Homo sapiens: one gene and its partners. The protein of the gene in region 1 interacts with the protein of each later gene in a biochemical or structural test. Each region holds a gene or a part of one and is shown in the gene's direction. Other genes may lie near its edges. The genes, in order: MAPK8IP1, MAPK9, DUSP16 and MAP3K11.

Region 1 (8,132 bases):
ATGCAAGGGCTGGGAGGGCTTCCTGGAAGAATGAGCTTAACTGAGCACTCTTCCAGCAAGCATGGTTTGAGAGTCTGCCACGTGCTCCCTCTGAGCACTGGGTTTGGCACTGGGGAGACACAGTGCCCACGCAGACTACGCATGGAGCTGGAGGCCTTGCCTGCAGGCACAGGAACCTGCTGCTAGTGGAGAGCCTTGAGGGTTCCAAGTGGGGCGGGAGGGATGATGGCATTTCTGGCAGTTTTGCCTGATAGTGGCAGGTGGAGTGGGATGGTGCAGGCATAGGGAGACTGAGACAGACAGGCCAGTGGGGACATCTGGGAGGGCAGAGGCAGGAGCTGGACTAGGGCTTGGCAGTGAGGAAGCGGAGCCATGTGTGAGGAGACACAGATGTGTGCAGGGGGGCTGGGCACCATGGCTCACGCCTGCAATCCCAGCACTTTGAGAAGCCGAGGCGAGCAGATCACCTGAGGTCAGGAGTTCAAGACTAGCCTGGCCAACATGGTGAAACCCTGTCTCTACTAAAAATACAAAAATTAACCAGGTATGGTGATGCACACCTGCAATCCCAGCTACTCAAGAGGCTGAGGCAGGAGAATCACTTGAACCCAGGTGGCAGAGGCTGCGGTGAGCCAAGATCATGTCATTGCTCTCCAGCCTGGGTGACAGAGCGAAAGGCCGTCTCAAAAAAAAAAAAAAATATATATATATATATATATATATATATGTGCAGAGGTCACTGGCAGAGCAGGGGCATTTCAGGGCACCTCTGGGTCAGCGGTCCTGCAGCTCTCCCATGCCATCTGAGTACCAGGGGCTCCCTTTTGCACCACTGGCCTTCTCGGTGACCATCTGGGCAACCAGTGTGAATTGAACACTTACTTGGTGCTGGCCACTGGGTTTTTGTCCCTGAGCCTGAGATGCCACCCTGCCCTGGCCGGACGGAGGAGGGCTGCTCTGGCTTCTGGGCCAGGCCCTCCTCCCCACTTCCACCCCAGCTGGCCAGCCACACCCTCCCCATGGCCTGGGGAACCACCACCCTTGGGCTGCAGGTCAGACGTGACCCTACAGGGCACCTTGTCCATCCAGCCCCCATTCCCCACCCCTCTGTGCAGTGCCCTCCAGGGGCCTCCAGGTTCTGTTTATGTCATTCCAAAGGGAGAGGAAGCTCATTACCACACAGCAGCCCTTCCAGCTCTGCTCTAAGGGCCCAAACACTGGCCTGCCCTTAGCTGTGGCTCTGGTGCCTCCTGCTTCCATAGGCCCTGCCTTCCTGGGTCCTGAAGGCTCAAGCTCTGGCTGCAGAAGGAGGCAGCCCAGATCAAACCCAGTTTGGATGCAGCCTGGGCCCACAGAAGCCTCTCTGATGAGGTCGGGGGGCTGAGCCTATGGCAGTGCAAACCGAGTGTTCATTCTTAGGGTGTTTGGGAAGCCCCCCTTCATCTCCCACCTGGCACCCTGACTGGGGAACTGGCCCTTTAAAGCCAACCAAGGGCTGGCTTTTGGGGGGAAACATCCTAGATTTCTGCCATCTACTTACAAGCCTGGGCCAGGGAGGGGGGGCCACTCAGCCCCCGACAGGGGCATTGGAAGGGCAGGTGGAGCCAGTGGCATTGATTGCAGTAACCTGATCCCGTGAGGGAGGCGGCCACAGCGGCAGCAGCGCAAGGGCCAGGCCAGCCGGGAGGAAGGTGCCTGCAGCTGAGGGCTGCGCTGGGAAGAGCTGGGGCTGGGACCCGGGTCGGCAGCTGCAGCCTCCTCTCCTGGCCTGTCTATTTTTAATGAGCTCCCCAGGCTTCTGCAGCAGGCAGGACGCAGAAAGACAGGCCCAAGCGGTGGAGGCCAGAGGCCCCCAGCCCTGCCTTGAGCCCTGGCCCCCCCACCCTTCCGGGCATGAGAGGGCAGCCCTGGGGCCCCGCAGCCCCCCGGCCGGGCAGGGCTCTCCATGCAGCTGGTGCTGAAGATGGATTCGAGCCCAGACAATGACAGCTGGTTGGAGGATCAATGGGAGCGCTGGTAGGGGCTACCGGGGCTGGCGGGGGTGGAGACCGAGTTGGGGTGAGCTCCATCGAGCTCAGGGTCTCTGATCTGAATGAGGCGAGTGGCAGGGAGTCTGGGCCTCCTAGGTTCCCCTGGGGGCTAAGCCACCATCTCTCCTGGGTGACCTTGAACTAGTGGGTTTCCCTTGCTCTGTGCCTCAATTTCTTGGACTTATTTGGGAAAAGGCTCATACATTCTCCCCAACTTCCTAAATGTTCTACCCCCCCACCACCCCCCCAGCAAGCCAGGCAGAGTGCCCAGGACCTAGAGGTGAGCAAGAGACAGGCTGCCTTGCAGTGGCTGGCCCAGCCCTGCATTCTGAGGTGGGGACTCAGGGCTGGCCTAGGGAGAGGGGGGTTCTAGTGGAGCTGGTTAGTATTCTGGTGCCCTGGTGCTCTGAGCTGTCTCCCAAGGTTGTAACACCTCTGGTCCCACCTGGGGCTTCTCCTGACCCCATCTGTGCAGCCTCCTGTTCAGGGTCCTTACACTGGATAAGGAGAAGATGTTGTGGTTGAAGAGATGAGACCACCAAGTGCACAGCATGAGGCTGGAGTCCTTTCTGGAATAGGCTGAAACTACCCACACTGACACCAGATTTTCCTTCGCTTGTTCCCTGGGCTCAAGGGGCATGAGTCTTCCTGAGCTGGGGCGTGGGGCACTCCTCTGAGGCTGCTGCCGGCGCCTCGGGTCTTGCTACTGCAGGGATTGCACTGGGAGCTCCCCTACTCCAGGCTGCTCTTCTCAAGTCCACATTCTCCATGGTGAACTGGCCTTGGCACCTGCCTTGACCCTGGGAGGAGGCTCTGACCAGTTGGGCCTTCTAAGCACTGCCTGCTGGTTGGCAACAGAATGACAGCTTCCAGGGAGGAGCCAGAGTGACCTGGAGCCTCCTCTTCCACTGCCACCCTAGGAGGACTGCCTTTTGGCACAAGCCCCTCGCTCTTTCCCTGCCTGCTGACCACCCCCTGCATTGATACAGATGAACCCCAAATCCTGTCCTCTGGGGGCTGTGTTTGGCCTTCAAGAGGCTGCACCCTGGAAGAGGTAACAGGGAGATGTGAGCAGGCATAGTGCCCCTGAGTTGTAACTTTGGCTTCCTGTCCCCACCAGGCTCACCCATGACATCAGCCTGGAGGAGTTTGAGGATGAAGACCTCTCGGAGATCACTGATGAGTGTGGCATCAGCTTACAGTGCAAAGACACCCTGTCCTTACGGGTAAGGGCAAGCTCCCAGGAGCTCCTGAGTGGGGTGGCAGGAAGGCTAGGGACAGGGGTAAGGGTATCCCCATAGTGACAAAGGGGGTTTCAGGTCTGTGCTGGCACCCTCATGAAATGAAATGATGTGCAAGAAACATAGGTATACTGCTTGGCACGTCTTGAGTGTACAATCAGAATTTCATTTGGTATTATTATTATTATTACTGCTGTCGGGGACTAAGACAGGAAGTAGCTCCTTCAACTGCCCACGAGATGGGAGAGGCCAGGAAGTCTTGAGACCTAGGGCAGTAACAATTAGGACCAGACTTAAGGGAGACTCAGGGCTACCCCTGAATCCTTTTGGGAGCAGCCCTGGCAGAGGGCCTGAGGCAGACAGGGTGGAGTCTGGTGGAATCTGCAGTGCTTTAGGGCAGGAAGAAACAGCCAAGGCACCCCTGGAATAGCTCCTGTGGCTGCTGGCTGCTATTACACCAGACAGATGGCACCACGCGGCCTCCCAGACCCTCTCTGGCCTATAGTCCTAAAGGCCCCCACTGAGGGGTTTGCCCAGCATTGCTGCTGGTTTGGGCCCCTTGGCTTTGTCATAGGGAAGATGGCTCTCTCCTGTCCCTAAAGATCTGAATGCTGCCAGGAGGTCCCCAGCACCTGGGTAACTGGGGTCAGATGGGGATCCCAACTATGTCTTTTCAGAACAGGAAGAAGGGGCCGGCTTGCCAGGAAATGGAGGACAGAGCACAGGGCTAGGTTTTAGAGCCCAGAGCTCCTCTGAGCCCCCAAGAGGGCGGGTAGCCAGATACGGTGTCAGGAGAGTGGTTACCATAGGAGCGTGAGGTGTGCCTTGGGGAGGGAGTACCTGTCTCTGTGTTGACCTCCTGCTACTCCCAGAGACTCAGTAAGCTCTGCAAGAGGAAACCAAGGGGTGAGGATAATCCCCTAGTCCCCAGTACCCCAACCTTCCACTCTCTGGCCAGGCCAGGAAGAGGCAGAGGCCTCTAGATTTGGGGAATGGTCTCAGAGCCCTGACTTAGCTTCTCAGAGGTCAGGCACCTGTTCTGGACTCTCACCCTGCCCTCTCCCCCAGCTGCACCAGCAGAGCCTTGGAGAGGGTTGCCTCCGAGCTAGGCAGGGGCCCCAGGCACTACTGGCCAGAGGTGTGCCCCTAAGGGGCCTCAGACAAGCTCCAGCGGGCTTCACACACGTTCCAGTGAATACTCAGCTCTCTCAGAGGCTGGGAGGCAGTAGTGTTATCCCCACTCAACTGATGAGGGGGCCTGAAGGATCAGGGGATCTGTCCAAGGTGCCAGGGAGTTGGCGGCAGAACTGGAGCTAGATGGGGCTCTGCATCCTCAAGGCAGGCTCGTGGAGGACCGATCTAGGGCTGGAGGGGCCCCGGGCCAGCTGGCTTAGGGCGCGGCTGCCACCGCCTTGGTTCCTGGCCCCCGCTCGCCCCTCCCCCTCGGCGTCTCCTTCCCATCCCTCTCAGGTCTCCGCCGTTCCTTGCTTGGCTGAGCCTCAGTTTTTCCAGTTTTCCTCAAGACCCCTTCAAATACTATTTCCCCAACCCCCATCCCTTGCCCACCCCACCCCGAACTCCTTGGCGACCACTGAGTCCCCATAGCAACAGCGGTGACTTCACTCTGGGCTCGGCTTACAACCCCGGTGAGGTCACCGGCCGTTGCCAGGGGAACGGGAGGGCGCAAGGAGTCCGGGGTGGGGACTGTGGGGAGGTGCTGGCCGTCAGAGGCACGGCTGGATCGGGGAGGCGGCGGCCTCGCGCTTCCTCGCGGCGGACGGGCGAGAGCGCCCCAGTCTCCGGCGGCCCCTGCTCGGCTCCCCTCGTGCCCCCTTCGCGCCACAGAATGGACTCGCCCGGGCGGGGGGCGGTGCAAGCGGCCTCGGCCCCGCCCCGGCCCCGCCCCCTGACGCCCCTCCGTGCGCTGTGCAGCCCCCGCGCGCCGGGCTGCTCTCTGCGGGCGGCGGCGGCGCGGGGAGCCGGTTGCAGGCCGAGATGCTGCAGATGGACCTGATCGACGCGACGGGGGACACTCCCGGGGCCGAGGACGACGAGGAGGACGACGACGAGGAGCGCGCGGCCCGGCGGCCGGGAGCGGGGCCGCCCAAGGCCGAGTCCGGCCAGGAGCCGGCGTCCCGCGGCCAGGGCCAGAGCCAAGGCCAGAGCCAGGGCCCGGGCAGCGGGGACACGTACCGGCCCAAGCGGCCCACCACGCTCAACCTCTTTCCGCAGGTGCCGCGGTCTCAGGTGAGGCGCCAACGTGGGGGGCGGCGCCCTGGGCCGCCGCGGAGATGTGAGGGGGAGCGCAGAGGGGCTGCAGCGGGAAGGGGCACCCACGGGTCCAGTGCCTGGGGACAGCGCCTGCATAGGGGCCGCGGTGGCTCGCTCCCGGTGTTGGGATCCGAGGAGCGGGCAGAACCATCCTTACGAAGAGGGGGCTGAGTCCAGCTGGCCGGGCTTGGAGCCTTGAGGCGGGATTGAAGGAGGGAAGGACTGGGGTTAGGAGAGGAGTAGGGAATTAAGAGAATGAGGCTTTGAGGGGTTCGAAGGGTTTGGAGCCTGGGACCTCAGGCTGTGACAGGGTTTCTCCTTTAGGATATGGGGCTCCTGGTGAAAGTGGAGCAGGAGCAGGGCCTGGAGAAAAGGGCATCTGAAATGGTCATCGTGGGGGAGGCCGTGGGAGATCGTGGCGAGGTGGGGATGGGAAGCTCAGGGGCCACAGCCAGTTTAAGATCTGGGCAGCTGCGAATTCCCAGAAGGCAGGGGGGAGGAATGGGAGATGGAGCTGCTTGGCTAAGTTGGGGACCTAGGGCCCCTGGGAGGGTGGCTGGATGCCAAGGAGAGTTGAATAGGGTTGGGGGAGCTGGCTGTGGCCCTTTGTCTTCCAGGCCCATCGGGAGCGGTGCAGGCAAGGAGCTCCTGGGAGGTGGGGCGGCTGGGGCTGCGGGGAAAGGCTTGGTCCCTTTCCCAGGATCCTGTGAATGGCTTTTGGCAGCCCGGCTCAGGAACGTGAGGGCTTGGGAGAGAGCTCCCAGGGGAGGGAGCCTCCGTGGAGTGGAGGGAGCCCTGTGTGGGCATTGTGGGGAGGGGTCCCAGGGCTGAGAATGTAGAATGGGCAGCCCAGGAGATCCAGGAAGGAGGGCTGCTGACAACTGCATCTGTCACTCCTCAGTCTCATGCCACTGTGGTGGGGGGTGCAGGAAAACTCTGTTATGGATTTGTCACTGGGATGATTCATCCTGGTCCCCCAGGCCAGCTGCTAGGGAGACCCTTCCTTGTGCTTTTTCCAGGCTCTACCAGAAGGTCCTCACCCCTTCTAGGCCATAACTTCCCAAGCTCCAGAGCAGAGAGTCACCTGTCTCTGACTTGGGCTGGATTTGAGCATTTTCCAAGTAACCCTCAGTACCTGGGACTGGGGGTCTGACTGTGTCTCCAGAGAGCTCCTGCTTCTCTTCTCCCCTGCCTCCTCCCCCTCTTGCCACCACACACATTGGCCATCACCACCTTTGTTAAGGCTGATAAGAGCATCTCCCTGAGGGTTGGCCAGCTTCCCTGAGCAAGGCGGAGGGCCATCCAGAGCCGGCAAGCCTGGCTGTGACTTGCCACCCTTCCTGCCTGCTCCAGAGGAGAGTTACGAGTGAGGCCTTTGACAGTGGAGGCGGGGTGGACACAGCAAATGGCCCTAGGGATGGCCTGAGGGGGCAGGGCCGGGGCCTCCCTGTGCCGGGCACTGTTGACCACTTCCATCACAAGAGCCTTTTGTTCCCTGCACAGGACACACTGAATAATAATTCTCTGGGCAAAAAGCACAGTTGGCAGGATCGGGTGTCTCGATCATCCTCACCCCTGAAGACAGGTAAGTCAGGGCCCTCTTCCTTACCTGGACCTCCGCCTGCCCTGACTCAGTCCCCACTACAGAGAGCAAACCCTACAGTCTCCAAAGGGCTGAGTAGAGGTGAACTGCCCACCCACATCCCTGCACGAGCCCATCCAGGGGCTGAGATCAGTGGTGGCATGAGTGAGTTGACTGGCCCCAGAGCCTGCGAAGGGCCTGTTGCCCAGGGAGGCTTTGTCTTGGTTTCTGTGTCACCAAGCTGAGAGTGGCAGGTGCAGGTAGCTGGGAGTTGGGAGAGAGCCCCTGCCTTCATGACCTGCCTGCTCTCCAGGGGAGCAGACACCACCGCATGAACACATCTGCCTGAGCGATGAGCTGCCCCCCCAGAGCGGCCCCGCCCCCACCACAGATCGAGGCACCTCCACCGACAGCCCTTGCCGCCGCAGCACAGCCACCCAGATGGCACCTCCGGGTGGTCCCCCTGCTGCCCCGCCTGGGGGTCGGGGCCACTCGCATCGAGACCGAATCCACTACCAGGCCGATGTGCGACTAGAGGCCACTGAGGAGATCTACCTGACCCCAGTGCAGAGGCCCCCAGACGCTGCAGAGCCCACCTCCGCCTTCCTGCCGCCCACTGAGAGCCGGATGTCAGTCAGCTCCGATCCAGACCCTGCCGCCTACCCCTCCACGGCAGGGCGGCCGCACCCCTCCATCAGTGAAGAGGAAGAGGGCTTCGACTGCCTGTCGTCCCCAGAGCGGGCTGAGCCCCCAGGCGGAGGGTGGCGGGGGAGCCTGGGGGAGCCGCCGCCACCTCCACGGGCCTCTCTGAGCTCGGACACCAGCGCCCTGTCCTATGACTCTGTCAAGTACACGCTGGTGGTAGATGAGCATGCACAGCTGGAGCTGGTGAGCCTGCGGCCGTGCTTCGGAGACTACAGTGACGAGAGTGACTCTGCCACCGTCTATGACAACTGTGCCTCCGTCTCCTCGCCCTATGAGTCGGCCATCGGAGAGGAATATGAGGAG
Region 2 (8,132 bases), on another chromosome or scaffold:
GCAATTTAATTTTCAGGGTGCCAGGACTTTAATTTGTTCACAGATTAAAATCTGTTTATTTGGTCCCGTAAATAAACAACAGAGGGGATACTTGAATGTGTCTAAGATAAAATATTCTTAATTTTCTGGATAAAGAAAAGGACCAGACAAACCAGTTAATAGCGAGTAAACCAGTTGTTTTCATGAGGCATAAGATAAAACAGAGACCAGATTTTTTTTCTTCTTGAGACTATTGATTTGCCAATAGGGCAACTATTTTTGGTCTACATACATACAGTAGTTACACCTCACACTTGGTTAGGAAGGTGCCATTTTTACATAATTTTCCTTCAGAATAATTAATTCCTGATACTTTGTACTTGATTGTATGAACCAGTTTCAACATCATTCTTTTTATTTTAACTTTTATTATGGGAACTTTCAAACATATACAAAATAAACAGAATAGTGTCCTGCTTTAACAGTTATTAACTCCTGACCAATCTTGTTTCATCTCTAATGGTATCCACTTGCACCCTTACCACCCATAATTATTTTCAAGCAAATCCTAAATATCATGTCATTTCATTCATTATTTTTTGGGATACTAATTACACAGTGGGTGCCCAGTAAATGTTTGGTAAAGACAAAGCTAAATGGGAGAATAAATGTGGTAGGGTAGCTCGGAGCAGTGGGTAAGATCAGGACTTTGAGTCAGACTCCCAGTGGGTCTGCTGCTTATCTGGGTGATGTGCAGAAGCGATTGCACTCATCTGTAAAACATACGGGCACAACCTCAGGGTGCTCAGGAGGTGTACAGTAGTTATACTTCACACTTCGGTAGGTCTCTAAAGGTACTGACTCTTTTAAAGTTGAAAAAGTAATAATTGCTTAATATCATCAAATAACTAGTCAATATTCAAATTTCCAGCTGCCCCATGAATTTTAGGTTTCCTTAATAGTTTGAAAGTAGAGCAAGAGAAGGCCATACGTTGTTGATTGGATGATACGTCTTTTAAGTTTCTCTTAATCCATAGATCCCCCTCCTATTTCTTTGTTTTCTTGGTAGTTTATTTGTTGAAGCAATCGAGTTGTTCCTTAGCATTTCCATAGTTGGTATTTGATTGATTGCATCTCTGCAGTGTAATTGAATGTGTTTCTCTGTAATCTCTGTAAGTTAGTAATTGGATCTAGACGAGGCTTCGTCAGATTTAGGGTGCATTCCTGCATCAAGATGCCTTCCTAAGTGGGCTGTGCACTTCTTATCTAGAGGTACCCTGAGGCTCTCTGCTCGTCCGTGTTGCAGATGAGTGCAATCGCTTGCTGCACATCACCCAGATAAATAGCAGACCCACTGGGAGTCTGAAGTCAAAGTCCCGATCTTAACCACTGCTCCCAGCTGCCCTACCGCATTTTTTCTCCCATTTAGCTTTGTCTTTAACAAACATTTTTTGGGCACCCACTGTGTAATCAGTAGAGGATTGAGAAATAAATCAGACACATTTTCTGCCCTTACAGAGTAGAAGTGTAAGTAGACTCGGAATGCAATCTAAAGCGAATACTGGGAGGGTGGCAAAAATGGGGGCATGCCCAGCATGGTTTGAAGGGAAAGGCTGGAGGAGGAAACATGTAAGAGAAGCAAGTGCTTGAACTAGATTTTTGAAGGAGGGTGAATGTTGACCAGCAGGTCAAAAAGGGGAGGGAAGTCATTTCAAGCAGATGGAACAGCTTAGGCAGAGGCCTGAAGGTGTGCAGTAGCTGGGTGTGTCCGCTGATCCCAGGTGGTTTGATGTTGCCTAAGATTGGGCCAGAGGACTGCCATCTCCTGTGCTGTGCTAGGGAACTGAATCTTATTCTCCAGGCAGTCAGTCACTGTTGAAGGAGTTCAAATGGGAGAATGGTGTGATCACTGCACACTTTCAACAAATCTCTCTTTTTTCTTTCCATATTTTGAAATAATTATAGATTCACAGGAAGTTGCACAAATGGCACAGAGAGGTCCCAGTACCCTTCCCCCAGCTTTCTCCCACGGTTACATATTTACACAACTGTAGTAAAATGTCTAAACCAGGACATTGGGCATCGGAGCAAGGTGTATAGAGTTCATTGTCATTTTTTATCGTGTGAAAATTCCTATAACCACTACCACAATCAAGATTCAAAACTATGTCATCATCCCAGATATCTCCTTGTCCCACCCCCTTACAGCCACAGCAGCCCCTTTTCCCCACCATTCATAACTGCTGGCAAGTACTAATCTAGTCTGCATCTCTATACTTTTGTCTTTTCAGGAATGTTATATGCATGGAGTTATACAGGATGTGACTTTTTGAGATTGGCTTTTTTCGTTGACTATCCTGCCCCTGAGATCCACCCAAGTTGTGGTATGTTTCAGCAGTTGCTGAGTGGTATTCCATGGTATGGGTATACAGCAGTTAGTTTAACCATTTACCCATTGAAGGACAGGTTTGGGTTGTTTCTAGTTTGGCACTATTAAAAATAAAGCTGCTGTGAACATTTGTGTACATATTCTCACGTGGAGTGATTTCTCTTTCTAAAGTGGCATGTGTGCAGTGGTTCGGAAGTCACAGAAATGGTGGCTGGGAGAATGCTTCTGCTGTCGCTGGTCCAAGGAGCCACGAGAAGCCCTTACCCAGGGCCCTGGGAGTGGGGGATTGAGAGGGAAATAGGCAGGCCTGGGTGCCTGGAAGTGGGGCTGGTGACGGAGATCCTTGCAGGGTCCTATGGATCCAACAGTGGGTGAAGTGATAACCAAATGCTAGTTGTTCTGTATTGTGGTATATACTGTGGCTTAAGAACTACAGAGGATGGCCCTGAGAGCTGCAAGGTTCTTGATTATCAAAGAAAGATTACGTTGTTATACCAAGCTATTCTTCATAAGAATTACAGTAGGAGGCCAGGCGCGGTGGCTCACGCCTGTAATCCCAGCACTTTGGGAGGCTGAGGCGGGCGGATCATAAGGTCAGGAGATCGAGACCATCCTGGCTAACACAGTGAAACCCCATCTCTACTAAAAATACAAAAATTAGCTGGGTGTGCTGGCGGGCGCCTGTAGTCCCAGCTACTTGGGAGGCTGAGGCAGGAGAATGGCGTGAACCTGGGAGGCGGAGCTTGCAGTGAGCCGAGATCATGCCACTGCACTCCAGCCTGGGCGACAGAGCGAGACTCCGTCTCAAAAAAAAAAAAAAAGAAAAGAAAGAATAAAGAATTACAGTAGGAAAATAGAACTTTTTAAATTTTTACTATTTTTTTTTTTTTGAGACGGAGTCTCGCTCTGTCGCCCAGGCTGGAGTGCAATGGTGTGATCTTGGCTCACTGCAAGCTCCGCCTCCCAGGTTCACGCCATTCTCCTGCCTCAGCCTCCCTAGTAGCTGGGACTACAGGCGCCCGCCACCACACCCGGCTAATTTTTTGTATTTTTTTAGTAGAGACGGAGTTTCACCATGTTAGCCAGGATGGTCTCCGTCTCCTGACCTCGTGATCCACACGCCACAGCCTCCCAAAGTGCTGGGATTACAGGTGTGAGCCACCGCACCCGGCCAGATTTTTACTATTATTATTATTATTATTGTTTAATATAGAGTTGAAGCCTCACCATGTTGCCCAGGCTGGTCTGGAACTCTTGGGCTTAAGTGATCCTCCCACCTTCGGCCTCCCACAGTGCTGGGATTACAAGTGTGAGCCATCTTGCCCAGCTGGAAAACAGAACAATTTAATGAAAAAAATGTCGGCAGCAAGCATTGAGACAGAGGGTGATTGTGAGAATCTGCTTTTAATCACAATAGTTAGTTGATTTAAATATCGCATGTCCTGGGTACTCTGAAGCTTTAGTGTGATGAAAGGTTCACTTGAGTCTGTGGATCACTGAATCGTTGTCATCGTTAGAGGAAAAAGTGTTTTGGTAGGTTTTGGTAGGGGGAGTCAGCAAGGTGAAATGTGCAGGACTGTGTGCTGGTCCTGGCCAGCCCATGTGCAAATAGCTTCACTTTCTAAAGGGATATCAGAATGGTGCTTTGGGAGGAACTTGAATATTGTGGTGAAACACTCCTAAATTCAAATCTGAGCCATGCTGGGAATTTGGACAACTTCCTTACTGGACAACTTCCTCTAAGCCTCAGTTTCCTCATTTGCAGAGCGGGGATAGTAATATGCTTCTCACTAGTTGTTATAAGGGTGTTGATAAATGTGTACCTCAGAGCCAGGCCCACTCTCATGCCTCTAGCCTTATCTGCCTGAAGCCCGTCTTCCATACAAGTGTCAAATGATCATTCTGCAGCTTTTCATTTAACATGTGTTGTTTAATCAGTTTTTAAATGTGAAATATGTACATTTGAAAAACAGAATAGAAAGTTATAATGGGAAGAAAGTTTCTCATTTCCCACTATTTCTCTACTTGCCAGCATTGTGTATGTGCGTGTGTATGCGTGTGTGTGTGTTTACGTAGCTGGGCATTATGTGTTCTCTTCTTCAACTTGGTGTATTTCCTTTCTGTATCTTAGACATCTTTCCACATTGATACATAAAGTCCTTGCATTCTGTTGAATGGCCTTGTTGTACTTCTGTGCCATAATTTATTCAGTCCATCCACAGTGTGCATTTTAGATTACTTCTAGTTTTTTGCCTGTTACAAGAAGTGTTACAAACATGCTTGCACAAATATGTTTGGATACTTGTACACGTATTTGTCAGATACACTTAGAGAATTGTGTTTGCCAGTTTAGGATATGCAGTTAACATTTTTATTAGCCAGATCTATATTCCATCTAAAAAAATGTTTTACCACTTCTCAGCTCTCACTGACGTGTATGAAAGTGCCTGTTTCCTCATGCCTCGGTCGATACTGTGAACAAACTTGAGCTCAGGTCTTGCCTCCTCCAGGAAACCTCCTTGTAGCGTTCCCTCCCAGTTTTGAGTTGCTCATAGCCTGGAAGGGAGGCAGACCCTACAAAGGCTGTGACAGTGCAGCCTGGCGGGCGCTGCTGAGTGCACAAGTGGCAAGGAGGGAGCCCTGTGCTGGACGGATGGTGGCAGCACAGCCTGGGAGCTGAGGGGGAGGAACCAGCACCGGCTGGTGTGGGAAGTGGAGGCAGCGAATGCAGGCTTTAGTGTATTGCTAATGTGGTTTCATGAAGAATTCTTGTACTTCCCGATTTGTAAAACTGTTTTCTGAGCCCCAGTTGATGGTCCATTTTGTTGAAATATCATCTCAATAGAGTTGACTCATGAATAGCTAAATTACACACCTTCTCAGGTGGCCTTAAGTTTCTTTCTCTTGCTCTCACAAAGCCCAAACTTGACAGAGAAGGTGGCTTTAACAGGTTTTCACTTAGGTGACTTTTTTCTCCTGCATAATAAGGGTACCTTATTTTAATTTTATAATTATTTTAAATCTTTTTGTTTGTTTGTTTTTGAGATGGAGTCTCGCTGTGGCCCAGGCTGGAGTGGCACGATCTCAGCTCACTGCAATCTCCACCTCCCGGTTCAAATGATTCTCCTGCATCAGCCTCCCAAGTAGCTGGGATTACAGGCACGCACTACCACACCCGGCTAATTTTTGTATTTTTAGTAGAGATGGGGCTTCACCATGTTGGCCAGGCTGTTCTCAAACTCCTGACCTCAAGTGATTCCCCCACGTTGGCCTCCCAAAGTGCTGGGATTACAGGTGTGAGCCACCATGCCCGGACTATTTTAAATCTTGAGATGGAATTACAATTCTAAAACCTAATATGAGTGAATATACTCCCCAAATTTAAAAAAGTTAACCTAATATTGTCATAGTCCAAATATAGGTTGAAAGCAGTTATAGCAGGGAGAGTTGCAGAGTTGGTCAGCAGGGTTGAGATTGATCTGTCAGTCCCAACGTGGACACGGGGTCCTGAATGGGGGGTGGCTCTGTGCCATGAGGTAGTTAAGGAATCCAGCTGGTGGGCAGCTTTCCATCTACAGCATGTGACTTCCATCTCTGGGTCTGTGACAGCTGATCCCTCAGCCAGCAGCAAGGAAGAAAGATTGGAGGGCAAGCAGCTTTCTGTAAAGAAAAATAAAAGTGATCTGGAAGTTGCATACATCACTTCTACCCACATCTTATTAGTCAGAACTTGGTCATCTGGCCATACCTGGCTGCTGGGAAAGCTGCCAGGCGTCGTCTCTAGTTGGGCAGCCATTTATCTAGCAGGAAGGGGAAGGAAGGCTTCTCTTATGAAAGCGAGGAAGGGAGGGATGGATCCTGGAGCACCTCAGCGCCTGTGTCGCACCTCTGATGTTTTGACGGCTTCCACAGCCCTCAGGACTGAGGCCAGACGGCTCTGCGTGGCTTCTGGGGCTCATAGTGATCTGGCCTCCTTTTCTCTCTCCAGCTTCACTCGCCCTCTACCCAGCAAGTCCCTAGTGACTTGTCACATTCCGAATGTGCCTCCGCCTCTGCTGCTTCTCCTCCCATTCCCCCAAATCTTCTTCACCCTACTGGGTTTAGGACCCTTGGTGTGCAGGGCCTCCTCCTGAGTGTGCGCTCACTGAGGGCAGGCGAGTGTCCTGGCATGGTACCTCACCATCCACAGCGGGTGCTCAGTACATGCTTGCAAGTAACTGTGTTGCTGGTGTGTTGACGGCATAGCAGAGGAACAGCCACCCTCCGTAAAGCAGGTGGTAGTGGGTGCCTGCCTTTTTGCTGAGTTGTCTCTAATCCTTTGCACTTGTACCCCGCTAGCCAAGCTCAGCAGTTCGCTGTGTCTGGACACAGTCAGTTTGAGCTCTGTGGCTCTACTGTCCATCTCTGGCAAAAGAGTCTGAGGGCGGATGCCGCCTCCTCCTTGAAGCCGTCCTTGTCTTCTGCCCCTGCCAGTGGGTAGGATCTCTTTTGCCTTTTGATTTTGTTTACATTGTGCTTATGGCCCTTACCGCACTGTGACTTGTAATATAGATAATGGACTCACTGCTCGCGCTTCTCCCCCAAATAGTGAAGTACATGTTGTTTCAAGACTGGTTGCTAGCTGACTATGGCATATCTTTTGCTATACTTACCACTTTCGTGCATAAAGGTACCCCCTAAATGTTGAGTGGAATTGTTTCAGCCTCTTGCAAACTGTAAATAAGCTAATCTTTAGAAAGGATCTTCCTTTAGATATCAGTAAAATGGAGCAGCACTGTGGGGAATCAGATCAACAAAGGTTTATTGAATGCTCACAGTGCCCCAAAGACCAGCTTCCTGTCCTCCTGTCCTTGGAGTATGAGATGCCATGAGCAAGACAGACCTGCCTCGCACCTCCTATAGCTTAGAGCACAGTGACCTGCCAGCCTGGAGAGCTCCTGAGTCCCCTTCTCACAGCAGTGTGGGCTAGGCAGGTGTTCCAGCTCACTCAGCCCTAGATTGCTCCCAGGTAACACGGGACTGAGACTCCTGCGGTGCGGGTTGTATGAGCAGCTGTTTGTCCAGCATCTAAGCGCTGTGGCGTCACTGGAGTCACTCCCTGGCTGGCACGCTAACACACCTCGGCAGGAGTGGTCAGAGTGGCAGCCACACTGCAGCCACCACCCAGAGGACGGGGAGAAGACCGTGGGGCAGTGGTCACTTGGAGAAATTATTAATTTGACTCAGTTCTTTATTTAGACTTGTTATTAATCCATTTTTTCCATGTTTAAGGAAAATCCTAGCATTTGTGTTGAAATATAAATCATCACCACAAAAATCTCATTAGGTTGACGTTAAATATTAGATACTAGAACATAAAGGCAAGGGATTTGACAGAGCTGTAGAATACATTCTGTAGTCTTAAACGGTATAGAATGTTTACCTATATGATTTTATTGTTGGCTATGTAGTTTTAAAAGACCAAAATAAATAGCTTGCTGACTTTTAAATAAGCATAACCAGACACGAGCCTAGGAACCACTTGCCAATTTGTTTGCTTGTTTTCTGTATAAAATCATCCAGGCTCCTGCAGAGCAGCAGTCTCAGCCTGTGCCTCAACCACAGAAAAGCTGCTTTCTGGGCCTGCTGGCCTACACTCAGACATAGTGGATAGACTTCCTAGTGTTACTATGATGGACTGTCAGTCACAGCAGAGTTCTTCATATACAGATCTCTACCCTGAAGTCCGGTGGTGATGTGGGACTCTGGGGCTGTGCCAGCTGAT
Region 3 (4,214 bases), on another chromosome or scaffold:
CCACGCTCACCTGACAGCCGAGGGACACGAGCATCACTCTGCTGGACGGACCATTAGGGGCCTTGCCAAGGTCTACCTTAGAGCAAACCCAGTACCTCAGACAGGAAAGTCGGGGCTTTGACCACTACCATATCTGGTAGCCCATTTTCTAGGCATTGTGAATAGGTAGGTAGCTAGTCACACTTTTCAGACCAATTCAAACTGTCTATGCACAAAATTCCCGTGGGCCTAGATGGAGATAATTTTTTTTTCTTCTCAGCTTTATGAAGAGAAGGGAAACTGTCTAGGATTCAGCTGAACCACCAGGAACCTGGCAACATCACGATTTAAGCTAAGGTTGGGAGGCTAACGAGTCTACCTCCCTCTTTGTAAATCAAAGAATTGTTTAAAATGGGATTGTCAATCCTTTAAATAAAGATGAACTTGGTTTCAAGCCAAATGTGAATTTATTTGGGTTGGTAGCAGAGCAGCAGCACCTTCAAATTCTCAGCCAAAGCAGATGTTTTTGCCCTTTCTGCTTCACTGCATGGATACAGTTGGTAAAATGTAATAATATGGCAGAATTTTATAGGAAACTTCCTAGGGAGGTAAATTATGGGAAGATTAAGAAAGGTACAAATTGCTGAGGAGAAGCAGGAAACCTGTTTCCTTAGTGGCTTTTATCCCCTCGGCATGCGATGGGGCTGATGTTTCTATGATTGCCTCAGACTTTCACATTTACTAGTAGGGCTGAGAGAGGCTTTAGTGAGGAAGGAATATTCAGAATAAAACGGTTGAGAAAGCTGAGAAGACCATTGAGTTTTGATCAGTTGTGAATAGAGTGCAAAGCCATGGCCAAGCTGTTTTTGGAAACGCTGGCCGGCGTGTCTTCAGTGGAAAAAGCAAATCAAAATGGAGCGAGAGCAAAGGGGCGTCCTCAGTCCTCAACCTACAATCACTGTATGGAATCGGTCCTGGCAGCTGAACATAGGAGGTCACTGGAACAAGTGATAGTGCAGATTGGCTTTCAAACATCCTCCTGGCTTGAGTTTTATCAGCTACAATGTGGGTCCTCTTTTGAAGCCTTAATTCACAACAGCAGCTTTTTGGGGGTGGGGCTGGGCGGGTGTTGTCATTGTTCTTTCCCTTCCTGTAAGTGTCGCTAGTTGCTGCCTCGTATCTCAGGTTTTTCTCTGTTTTTGAGAAATGGACAGTTTTTTGACCAGGATGTGACTTCATGTTTCCTATGGTGACTTCTAAAACCAGCACAGAATGATATGACTCAACACAGACCGACTTGGTTATGGGGATGATGAGCCGCACAGACCTCACTAGTTGTGCACAAATAATGTGCTATGATGGGGTGTAAAGTGAAGGCAGAAGAGGGTCAGCCGCATTGTTATGATACTGGGAAAGTGCTGGTCAACGATTTGAGTTAGTTTTTAGATATACATTGAAATCTTTAATCAGACATTCTCAAGTTTCACACAGTAGTTTTTGATGTTATGTACACACACACCAAATGTGTAACAGTTCACCACTTCCAGAGTGTGGTCATGCCCAAAACATGTTTAAGAAAGGAAAGCAGTAGCTCCTTGCTAACGATGTTTCAGGAGGTTTGGGGGACTTGGTTTTAATGAGCTTCTGTCATTTAGGGCTTCTCTTGGCCATGGTCCCCCTTCCTTCTGGAACTGTGATGTAGTCACATCCTACAGCCTTTAGTGCTGGTTCACTAGTGTCAGATAATCAGTTCTTGGAATCGAGACTGCCGTGGCGAAGGGGTGGCCTCGGAGGCAGGCTCTGGAGCTGCTTGGATGTCTTTAGGTGGGGTGGTGGCTGGCTCTCTTCAGCATGTAATTGGGGAAACCCTCGCGTCTACTAGGGGTGATACAGATGGTGATTTTAAAGAGCAAAACTAGACTTCTATGTGAGAAGTGCTGGAAAATGATTTAGGACATGTGTAAAGTTAGATGGAAAGACTGTAAATGTTTAATATGAATATAGTGTTCTTTTGAAGTAAGGCCAGCTGTTGAACGGTTAAACTGTGCATTTCTCATTTTGATGTGTCATGTATGTTAATGTATGAAATGATTAAATAAAATCAAAACTGGTACCTGTTTATACATAAATACGAGAAAAGACCTATCTTTGCAGCCATAAACTCGGTGGGAACACCACCACTCAAGTTGCCAAAGGAGGCAGTGGTGAAACCTGTCCTGTTCTCACTTAAATGAGGATTTAGCTCAAAATAAAGTGGTGGTGTCATCAGGTTTATTCCGTGTTCTGTCATTCACATGGAACACCGGATGATTAGCTAACAGTTTAGTGCCAGCCTTCATTCTTTACTGTGTACGTTAAATGCACACTACAGTGAAAAAGCCTAAGACACTTGGTAAATATTTTCTAGCTGACTGATTCCAGAACACACAAGTACATGGTAGGAAAAAAAAGGCCAGCTACACACACATGGCCCATTTCGATATAACATGTAAATGATGTTACGATTCCTACAGGAAAAACAGGAAGGGCAATTGTTGAAGAGCTGTCCTTTGTCCTTGCCACATACATCTCAACAACCTCTCTGCTCATGACACTAGATTTGATGACTTATGAGACTAGAAACTTAGTCTCATCAGTTTCATAAAAATTAGGCATTGAAGGAATAAAGCTTCAGTGCAAACAGATGGAATATTGACTACAGAAAGAATCACAGGTGACCTTGAAGTTGGTTGAGTTGAAGTTACATTTAAGAAAATTTATAAGAAAGATTGGGCCGGGTGAGCTAGACTAGAAGAGCTATCTTGGCCAGGACCCTGCAGAAAAAGAGGTGGAAGTGAGATAGAGGAATAAAGGGAATTAGAATAAATCAGCCTCCAGAGATAGAGGGTAACAGGAGGAACAGTTGTTTCAGTGAGAGGCTTCCAATGAGAAGATGCAGATCTTGGGAGAGCCTGAAGTTCAGGCCAGTTGCTGACAGTGCTCGGAGCCCCTTCATGACCAGCCTCAGCAGGCTATTGTTGGAGGACTGGTTTGGATGTGACAACTACAATTAGACCAGGAATTAAACTAAGAGGGGAGGCTGGGGGCGGTGGCTCACGCTTGTAATCCCAGCACTTTGGGAGGCCAAGGCAGGTGGATTACCTGAGGTCAGGAGTTTGAGACCAACCGGGCCTACCTGGTGAAATCCCTTCTCTACTAAAAATACAAAAATTAGCCAGGTGTGGGTGCCTGTCATCCCAGCTACTTGGGAGGCTGAGGCACGAGAATTGCTTGAACCTAGGAGGTGGAGGTTACAGTGAGCCAAGATTTCGCCATTGCACTCCAGCCTGGGCAACAAGAGCGAAACTCCATTTTAAACAAAAAATAAACTAAGGGGAAATTAGTGAGAGGTGACAGCGCACTGGCAGCCCTCACACCCCTCACTCACTCTCAGCACCTCCTCTGCCTGGGCTTCCACTTTGGCGGCACTTGAGGAGCCCTTCAGCCCGCCGCTGCACTGTGGGAGCCCCTTTCTCGGCTGGCCAAGGCGGAGCCGGCTCCCTCAGCTTGCCGGGAGGTGTGGAGGGAGAGGTGTGGAGGGAGAGGCATGGGCGGGAACCGGGGCTGCGCACGGTGCTTGCAGGCCAGTGCGAGTTCCAGGTGGGCGTGGGCTCAGCGGACCCTGCGCTCGGAGCAGCCAGCTGGCCCCACCGCCCGAGCAGTGAGGGGCTTTTAGCACCCGGGCCAGCAGCTGCTGTGCTCAATTTCTCACAGGGCCTTAGCTGCCTTCCCACAGGGCAGGGCTCAGGACCTGCAGCCCGCCATGCCTGAGCCTCCCCGAACTCCGTGGGCTCCTGTGCGGCCTGAGCCTCCCCGAGCGCCGCCCCCTGCTCCACAGCGCCCAGTCCCATCAACCAGCCAAGGGCTGAGGAGTGTGGGCACAGGGCGTGGGACTGGCAGGTAGCTCCACCTGCAGCTCTGGTGCAGGATCCACTGGGTGAAGCCAGCTGGGCTCCTGAGTCTGGTGGGGACTTGGAGAACCTTTATGTCTAGCTCAGGGATTGTAAATACACCAATCGGCACTCTGTATCTAGCTCAAGGTTTGTAAACACACCAATCAGCACCCTGTGTCTAGCTCAAGGTTCGTGAATGCACCAATCAACCCTCTGTATCTAGCTACTCTGGTGGGGCCTTGGAGAACATTTGTGTCTAGCTCAGGGATTGTAAACACACAAATCAGTGCCCTGTCAAAACAG
Region 4 (8,132 bases), about 20 Mb from region 1:
GGGCTGACCATGGACAAGGGGCTTGCAGGAAACAGAGTGCTGAGCCCCAGATATCCAAGTTCTTGCCAGGACTGGGGGAGCCAGGAGAGGCCTGCCAACCATCCTACCCACTCTTCTCATCCCTGGTAGGGTGCGGTTCCCACCTCTCAGCCTCAACCCTGGGCTCTAACTATCTAGGGACCCCCGCTACCTGCCCCAATCTGAGGGGGATTCCCCGAAGGCACAGGGGGAGGGGACTCCCATCTTCTGTTTTTCCTCCGTTTTCTTTCCAGAAAAAATGGAACAATAGCCCAGGCCCCTGCTCCCCACCCTCCCCACTGCTTCCTGCGTTTCCTGCTGCCCCTGAGCCGGCTTCCTGTCCCTGCTCCAGCCCCTGCTCCCTCCCTAGCCCAGCTGCCTGCAGGGGAGGAAAGAGCTTGGGGTGGAGGACTTGCGGGAGGAAGGAGCCTGGAACTGCTCCCCTACTCCCCTCTAGTTCCCCTGCTTCCCTCTCAGAGTCTGGGAGGTGGTGGTAAAGGGCAGGCAAGGTGCCCTCAGCCTCCCTGAGCCTGGCATTTAACCTCGGAGACCCCAGTCCTAGGCCCAAGTTGCTGTCTGCAGGATTGGGGTGGGGGGAGTCCCTGGGCTGGTGGGGGGCACAGGCAGGAAACAATGGCATGATTTTCCTGGACAATGGGGGCCTTGTGAGGAAGCCTGGCGGGGAGAGGAGGGGGAATTCTCCAGGCCCACGAGTCACAGGACTGACCAGCCAGCCCGGCCTGGGCCTGACCTCCCCCAGTTCTCCCCAAAAGGACTCCCCCTCCCAAGTGGGAGACCTGGCCCAGGCCTCCCAGAAAGGAGAAGTAGGGACCACGGGAGGAAAGCGGAAGAGGTGTGAGCTGCCCAGGCCACTCCCAAGCCCCACAGAGGCCAGCCCAGGGAGGGAGCTGGTGGCCAGGTCCCTATCAGAGGCCAGGGAGCCCTAAAGGGGCACTGAGAGCTTCCCCCAGTTTCGGGGTCTCTGGCCCATTCTCCTCTGGGTGACCCCTGACCTCCCATGCCTGGGATCTACATCAGACACCAGAACAGCAGTTCGAGTTGGGACAGTTGAAAGCACAGAGAGGAGCTTGGAGAGAAAGCAGAGGATGGGGCTTAGCAGCTGGCAGAGCCAGGAGCGGGGAGGTAGCAGAAAGACCACAAGTACAAAGAAGTCCTGAAACTTTGGGTGAGTTGTTGCCCCTCTCTGGGCCTCAGATTCCCCACCTGAAAAAGGTGGAGAGTGGCCACCCGGCCTGAGATACTGGAACAGCACTTTGCCAGTCTGGGGTGCCACAAGTGGCTAGAGACAGGCCAAGAAGCAGCAAGTGTTGGTCTTCAAAGGGGAAGGTGGGCCCTGGCACCAGGGGAGGTGCCCATTTCCACTCCACCCACTGCCCCAGCCTGCTGTGTTTCCCCTTTGGAATGAGCTTGTCGTCGGGGGCTTGCTAAATGCTCAGGTCCCCGCCTCCAGCAGCCAGACCAGAGGCTGTTTTGAAGTTGGCAGTAAGGAGTGACAGAGGAGGGAGAGGAGGGCGGAGATACGATAAGTGCTTTAGGACAACTGGCCTTTAGGATGCTTCTGCCAGGTGGCAGCCCCCATGCAAAAACTTTAAAAGTGTGGTCTTGTTTCATGCTCGTGACAGCCATCTGAGGAGGGTTTTGTTGTCATCCTCAGCTTGATGAAGTGTTCAGGACTCAGCTCCAAGGTCTGGCTCAGAGGAGTGGGTAGATTTTGAGACCATTCTCTGGATTAGGAAAAATTGCAGGAAAATCTACTGGGCATGCCGGGATAGTAAAGGTGGTCATGGAGGGCACCTGGACATCAGGTAGAGCTGCTGAACCAATTTGTCTGGCCTGGAGTTGCAAATGTGGAAGATGCCAGTGGGGAGAGGGAGCTGGTACCTGGAAGAGGCTGAGTCAGCCAGGGGCAGTGGGCAGAGGTTGAGGAGAGGTCATGCTCTGAGAAGCACCAGCGCCGAAATGGCTGAAGGTGGAGGACACAGAAACAGAGCCAAGCAGCCAGGGGCTGTGGGGGCTGAGGACGGTGGGGCAGCGGGGACAGCTGGCAGCAGTGCCAGATGCCTCCTCAAGGCCCAGGTGGCCTGGCCAGCAGCAGGATCAGGGCTTGTTGCTTTAAGCCCTGAAAAATGAGCACCCTGGTTCTGCCACCTCCTCTGGGAAGTCTTCCCTGACTCACCAGGCTGTATTAGGTGCCCTTCCCATCTGCCCCACCCCCTGTGCCCTATGCTGCCCCCATGACAGCCGTGTCACACAGGGCAGGAGAGCTGAGAGGTGTGCCCTGACATGGGTCCAGAAACATGGTTGACTTGATATTGCTTCTCTTCCACAGTGCAGTTGGCTGTAACCTGAAAAGTAGAGGGGCCCTTCAGACCCTTCATGACTCTATGACTTTGTCCTCTTTCTATTCCTCGAAAACTTCTCTCATTTGAGCCATTCCTGTCCTGGTGAGAGATATGCAAGTTGCTGCTTCTCCTCTTTGTACCAAGTACGGTGGCCCCATTTGGGTTAAAGCCATGAGCCCCTGCCAAGTCTGACCATCCACGCCTACATTTACCCCAAGCTCCTCCTTTGTGGCCAAGAACCATCACTTTCTTGGACCCCACCCTTTCTCTTCCCTTCCAGCTGCATTGGTAGGTATCTTTTGGAGTCTTTGCTTTGGGAGTGGCTGCACTTGCCACAGTGTGATGTGGGCACTAGGGGCCTGTGGTACCTGCTGGGCTTCTTTTCTCACCAAGAGCTTCCCTCTTGCTCCCCACTCTAAGGGGGGTTCTGATTCACGCTCCTGCCTCAACAAAATGACAGGAGACTCACAGATCTCTCTTGAAATCAAAGCCATAAATGTCCAGAGCTGCCACCTTGCCAGTTTTGCTTCAGTGTAATATTAGGGAAAAGCTAGAACACTGGTTTCAGAGCCACACAGACCAGGTTGTAATCTCTGCTGTATTTGTTGTATGACCTCTGCCAAGTCATTTCCCTGCTTGGTTTCCTCATCTGTGAAACATGAAAAATATTATTTAGCTCATAAATGGTTTTGAGTGCTGGGGTTGAGTGTGAAATGTTTGGCCTCGGCCAGGTGCAGTGGCCTGTAATCCCAGCACTTTGGGAGGCCGAGGCGGGCAGATCACCTGAGGTTGGGAGTTCGAGACCAGCCTGACCAACATGGAGAAACCCTGTCTCTACTAAAAATGCAAAATTAGTCGGGCGTGGTGGCACATGCCCATAATCCCACTACTCGGGAGGCTGGGGCAGGACAATCGCTTGAACCCAGGAGGTGGAGGTTGCAGTGAGCCAAGATCACGCCATTGCACTCCAGCCTGGGCAACAAGAGCAAAACTCTATCTTAAGAAAAAAAAAAAAGGAAAAGAAAAGAAATGTCTGACCTCAAGTAGGTCCTCAAGATCTAGACCAAGTCACCTCTGTGCCCCCAGGACCCAGCCAGGATGTCCGTCAGATGAGTTTGCTCCCAGCTCTTACCCTGTCCCCACCACCTGATCCTGGAGCATCCACAATCTGGCCCCTCTTCTCTAGTTTTGCTGCTGCAGCCCATTGAGAGTGACGACATGGAGCACAAGACCCTGAAGATCACCGACTTTGGCCTGGCCCGAGAGTGGCACAAAACCACACAAATGAGTGCCGCGGGCACCTACGCCTGGATGGCTCCTGAGGTTATCAAGGCCTCCACCTTCTCTAAGGGCAGTGACGTCTGGAGGTGCGGCCCTTGGTGGGGCTGGACGGGCTGCTACGGGGCTGCAGAGGGCAGAGGTGGCTGCCTAAATCTAGGGCTGGGCCAAGTCCAGGGACAGGGACCCAAACCACTTGGCTCCTAGTTGCTTTTGGGTGAAGTGGCAGTAAGGGGGTGGGGGTTGGGAGAGAAAAGGGAACACAGACCTGTTGTCTCGCCCACAGTTTTGGGGTGCTGCTGTGGGAACTGCTGACCGGGGAGGTGCCATACCGTGGCATTGACTGCCTTGCTGTGGCCTATGGCGTAGCTGTTAACAAGCTCACACTGCCCATCCCATCCACCTGCCCCGAGCCCTTCGCACAGCTTATGGCCGGTAAGAGGACGGGGAGGGCAGGTGAGGTACAGAGCTCCCTGGCCCAGGACACATCCACCCACGGACCCCTTCTTATTCTGTCCCCGCTGCACGCCGTGCCCCTAGACTGCTGGGCGCAGGACCCCCACCGCAGGCCCGACTTCGCCTCCATCCTGCAGCAGTTGGAGGCGCTGGAGGCACAGGTCCTACGGGAAATGCCGCGGGACTCCTTCCATTCCATGCAGGAAGGCTGGAAGCGCGAGATCCAGGGTCTCTTCGACGAGCTGCGAGCCAAGGAAAAGGTGCGAGGAATCAAGGGACCCAGCGTTGGAACGAGTGTCTCCCCGATCTCCCTGGGGCAGAGTCGGGGCGGGCGCTGCCGGGATTGGTGCCAGGCTGACCTCTCCACCATCGCTGTCTCGGGCGCAGGAACTACTGAGCCGCGAGGAGGAGCTGACGCGAGCGGCGCGCGAGCAGCGGTCACAGGCGGAGCAGCTGCGGCGGCGCGAGCACCTGCTGGCCCAGTGGGAGCTAGAGGTGTTCGAGCGCGAGCTGACGCTGCTGCTGCAGCAGGTGGACCGCGAGCGACCGCACGTGCGCCGCCGCCGCGGGACATTCAAGCGCAGCAAGCTCCGGGCGCGCGACGGCGGCGAGCGTATCAGCATGCCACTCGGTGAGGGCCGGGCCCCGGGGCGTCCCCCGCCATTGGCTGCGGGGGTGGGGGTGGAGCCAGGCCTGTGTGCTCACCGCGCTGGGATTGGTTTAGGGTGTTGTGGGTGGGCCCGTGAGATGAAGGCTGGGAGGGGTGGAGCCAGGAGTGTTTTTTTTCTGTCTGTGGGCGGGTTCTGGCGGAAGTATTTGCATGTCGGTCTGGGAGTGGGAAGGGGTGGGGTTCACGAAAGTTCTGGGAAGGTCTAGTGGGCGGGGCCGGCCGGCGCCAGGGCATCTCCGACTCAGACGAGTAGCTTTCCTTATCCAGACCCAGGGGCTCAAGAAAGCAGTGAGGCTGGTCACAGTCTCACAGCCATCGTGCCGCTCCCTATGTGGCCTGGGAGCTGGCCTTGGGCCCCTGCAGGTTGGGGTCCTGGCTCTACTTCATCACAAACCTGAACCCTGCTCCCCCCAACCCAAATCCCAGACTTCAAGCACCGCATCACCGTGCAGGCCTCACCCGGCCTTGACCGGAGGAGAAACGTCTTCGAGGTCGGGCCTGGGGATTCGCCCACCTTTCCCCGGTTCCGAGCCATCCAGTGTAAGAAACTTCACCTCTCATGCCCCTCTCCGCCCCCCAGCTCCTTATTCTCTGTCAGACCTTATTCTTGGAGGCGGAGCCCACTCACTATCCCCTCTTCCTCCCCGCCCCCAGGCTCCCTGCCTTAGGTCTAGCCTGTTACCTCTGAACTCCCCAAGCAGCATTAATTTTACTTATTTTTTTTTAGTCAAATAATTGTATGACACTATGTACTACTAATTTTCTAAATGCTTTGCTAATATTAATTTCTTGCAATAATTCTATTTGGTAGTTATTTTTGTTGTTAATTTAAGTTTTATGGATGAGAAAAGTGAAAAAAGTAACTTGTTACACAGTTAATAAGTGGAAGAGCCAGAATCAAACTCAGGCAGTTGGTGTCAGTGTCTGTACTAATTACTAAGCAGCAAACTTCAGCCCAAGGGCTAGATGAGATGCCCCACCCCACTGTTGGCCCCAAGACCCAAACCCATCTATCTTGCCCAAAGCTCACCCTGGGAATGGTACAGGGCCCAGCCTGCTCCCCATACTCTAAAGTTTATCTCTGAAGCCTGACTGTGATGATGGAGGGAGAATAAAGATTATCTCCGATTTCATCGGTTTCCCCTGCAGTGGAGCCTGCAGAGCCAGGCCAGGCATGGGGCCGCCAGTCCCCCCGACGTCTGGAGGACTCAAGCAATGGAGAGCGGCGAGCATGCTGGGCTTGGGGTCCCAGTTCCCCCAAGCCTGGGGAAGCCCAGAATGGGAGGTGAGTACCTGAGTGCCCCCCAGACCCAGCATCATTTGCTTTCCCCAAGTCCTGAAATTCCTAAAGCACCCCTCCTTGCCCTCCCATCACCAGGAGAAGGTCCCGCATGGACGAAGCCACATGGTACCTGGATTCAGATGACTCATCCCCCTTAGGATCTCCTTCCACACCCCCAGCACTCAATGGTGAGTGGCCTTCCTCCCCCGGCAGGATCTGGCTGAGCTCCTTCCGTGGGCACCTTGGGGAGGCCACAATAGGCTAGTAGGCAAAGCAGGAGTCCTGCCCTGGTTGCTCTCATTCTAGAGACTAGGAAACCAAGGCTGAGACAAGACAGAGCCGATCCTGGAACCCAGGTCTGACCTACAGGCCCACGATCAAGCGGCATACAGCCCAGGCCTCGGCTCGGGGCCCAGAGTCTCATCCCCTTGCTCAGACCTGGCCTGCAAGAAGCCTCTTCCCTGGCCCCATGGCAGCCCCTGTGCCTTTAGCAGGCTCCAGGGAGAAAAGAAAGACAGGAAGCCCACCTGGCATTTGGTACCCAAGGGAAGCTGGACCCAGATGGGGGAAGGAATCAGCCTGTGTGGGGTGGAGCCAAACAAGTGTCAGCCACACTGTGCTTCTCAGAGCCCCTTCTGGGAGCCTGTAGGTGAAGAAGAGAATGAGAAGGCCGAGCAGGCAGGATCCAGGACCCATTCTCACCACATCCAGGATAGCTCGGGGCCTTTCTGTTCTCCATGACGGTAACTGCCCTACTGTGCCAGGCATTCCCTCCAAGCATTGATGAAGAGGGGCTACTATTACCCCATTTTGCAGATAAGGAAACTGAGGCTCTGAGAGGTGAAGTAACCTACCTCAAACCCCCAGCTGAGGATTTGAACCCAGAGAGGCTTCAGCTCCAATGCTCTCGTAGTGAGCTCAGAAGCTTTCACTTGAAGAAAGGGCTTCTCACGTATAGACTGCTTAGGAAGCCAGAGGGTCAGGCAGAAGGCAGGGCTCCAGCATTGCAGGGAGGAGGGCTCACTCAGCTCAACACTGCCCAGCTCTGAGTGAGGCCAGAGAGTTATGGCCTCCCTTGCCTGTGGGTCCCTGTGCCAACCTAGGGACCATCCTCAGAGCCCCCACACCTGCTGCTCACAGCCAGAATGTAGGACCCGCTTAGCTGCTCTCAGAAGAGTCCTGTTCAGCAAGCCGTTTAAACTCACTCCTCCCATCCCACCCAGCCCATCGCCTCTTCCATTCCCTGAGCTACACTTGATAGTTGTAACAACAGCTAACCTTTGTTGGTTCTCTTCTATGTGCCAAGCAGTTCTGTGAGGGGAGTAGTAGTATTGGCCTGCATTTTACAACAGAGAAAACTGAGGCACAGAGAGATTAAGTGGTTTGATGTAAGGCAACCAGTAGAGCAGGGATTTGATCTGCTCTTGCCTGTCTGACCACAGAGGCAGAGCCCTGGGCCTCCATCTGCCCCGCCATTTGCTACTCCAGCAGCTGCACTGCCCCCAGCATCTGTCCTGCAGGGACTGAACTGAGAGCTGGAAGGCCAAGGAGGCTTCTTGAATTCACTTGCTCTAAATTGTACCAGGCCAGATGGGCCAAAGGAGAACTTGAGAGCCTGTCAACCCAGGTGTGTAGGCTGAAGCAGGTCCTGACTGTTCCACAGAACTCTCTGGCCCTCAGCTCCCAGAAGCAGGGGCACAAGGGGCCTGGGCCCCATCGTTCTCAAGCTTGCCCCATGTTTTTTTATCCAAAGAATTTGTTAATTATTTATGAAGAGAAACTACTTATTAGCCCATATATTCATGAATAGTTCAGATCAGTGACAAACTTCTAAGTAATTCAACCCAAAGAAATTCTTCATATTCCAAAATCACTTTGCATTCTGAGAGATAGCAGCCTTCCTCATCTCCTCGAAGTATTTCATGGCATCATAACTTCTGTAGACATCTGTGCCCATAGAAATCTGAAATGCCTTCTTTCTTGGTCCAGCCCCTGCAAACTGAGAGAGCCGCAGCCCCCAGGGATACAGTGAATGCTCCCACAATATGAAATTGCAGATGTGTGG

What was found.
Region 2: the proteins of MAPK8IP1 (region 1) and MAPK9 form a complex in vitro, tested with the Homo sapiens proteins (one study listed by BioGRID).
Region 3: the proteins of MAPK8IP1 (region 1) and DUSP16 form a complex in vitro, tested with the Homo sapiens proteins (one study listed by BioGRID).
Region 4: the proteins of MAPK8IP1 (region 1) and MAP3K11 form a complex in vitro, tested with the Homo sapiens proteins (2 studies listed by BioGRID).

What each region holds. Positions count from the first base shown.
Region 1 is NC_000011.10:45,894,935-45,903,066, forward strand, and holds part of MAPK8IP1 (C-Jun-amino-terminal kinase-interacting protein 1), read left to right. Parts: intron 1-3,150; coding exon 3,151-3,256; intron 3,257-3,461; exon of another isoform or gene 3,462-3,537; intron 3,538-4,111; exon of another isoform or gene 4,112-4,157; intron 4,158-4,517; exon of another isoform or gene 4,518-4,601; intron 4,602-5,203; coding exon 5,204-5,518; intron 5,519-7,045; coding exon 7,046-7,127; intron 7,128-7,437; coding exon 7,438-8,132. UniProt on the Homo sapiens protein: The JNK-interacting protein (JIP) group of scaffold proteins selectively mediates JNK signaling by aggregating specific components of the MAPK cascade to form a functional JNK signaling module. Required for JNK activation in response to excitotoxic stress.
Region 2 is NC_000005.10:180,281,206-180,289,337, reverse strand, and holds part of MAPK9 (mitogen-activated protein kinase 9), read left to right. Parts: intron 1-2,270; exon of another isoform or gene 2,271-2,363; intron 2,364-8,132. UniProt on the Homo sapiens protein: Serine/threonine-protein kinase involved in various processes such as cell proliferation, differentiation, migration, transformation and programmed cell death.
Region 3 is NC_000012.12:12,472,114-12,476,327, reverse strand, and holds the end of DUSP16 (dual specificity protein phosphatase 16), read left to right. Parts: 3' UTR 1-3,046; downstream 3,047-4,214. UniProt on the Homo sapiens protein: Dual specificity protein phosphatase involved in the inactivation of MAP kinases. Dephosphorylates MAPK10 bound to ARRB2.
Region 4 is NC_000011.10:65,603,884-65,612,015, reverse strand, and holds part of MAP3K11 (mitogen-activated protein kinase kinase kinase 11), read left to right. Parts: intron 1-3,567; coding exon 3,568-3,748; intron 3,749-3,945; coding exon 3,946-4,094; intron 4,095-4,199; coding exon 4,200-4,375; intron 4,376-4,502; coding exon 4,503-4,746; intron 4,747-5,211; coding exon 5,212-5,325; intron 5,326-5,934; coding exon 5,935-6,070; intron 6,071-6,163; coding exon 6,164-6,255; intron 6,256-6,373; coding exon of another isoform or gene 6,374-6,423; intron 6,424-8,132. UniProt on the Homo sapiens protein: Activates the JUN N-terminal pathway. Required for serum-stimulated cell proliferation and for mitogen and cytokine activation of MAPK14 (p38), MAPK3 (ERK) and MAPK8 (JNK1) through phosphorylation and activation of MAP2K4/MKK4 and MAP2K7/MKK7.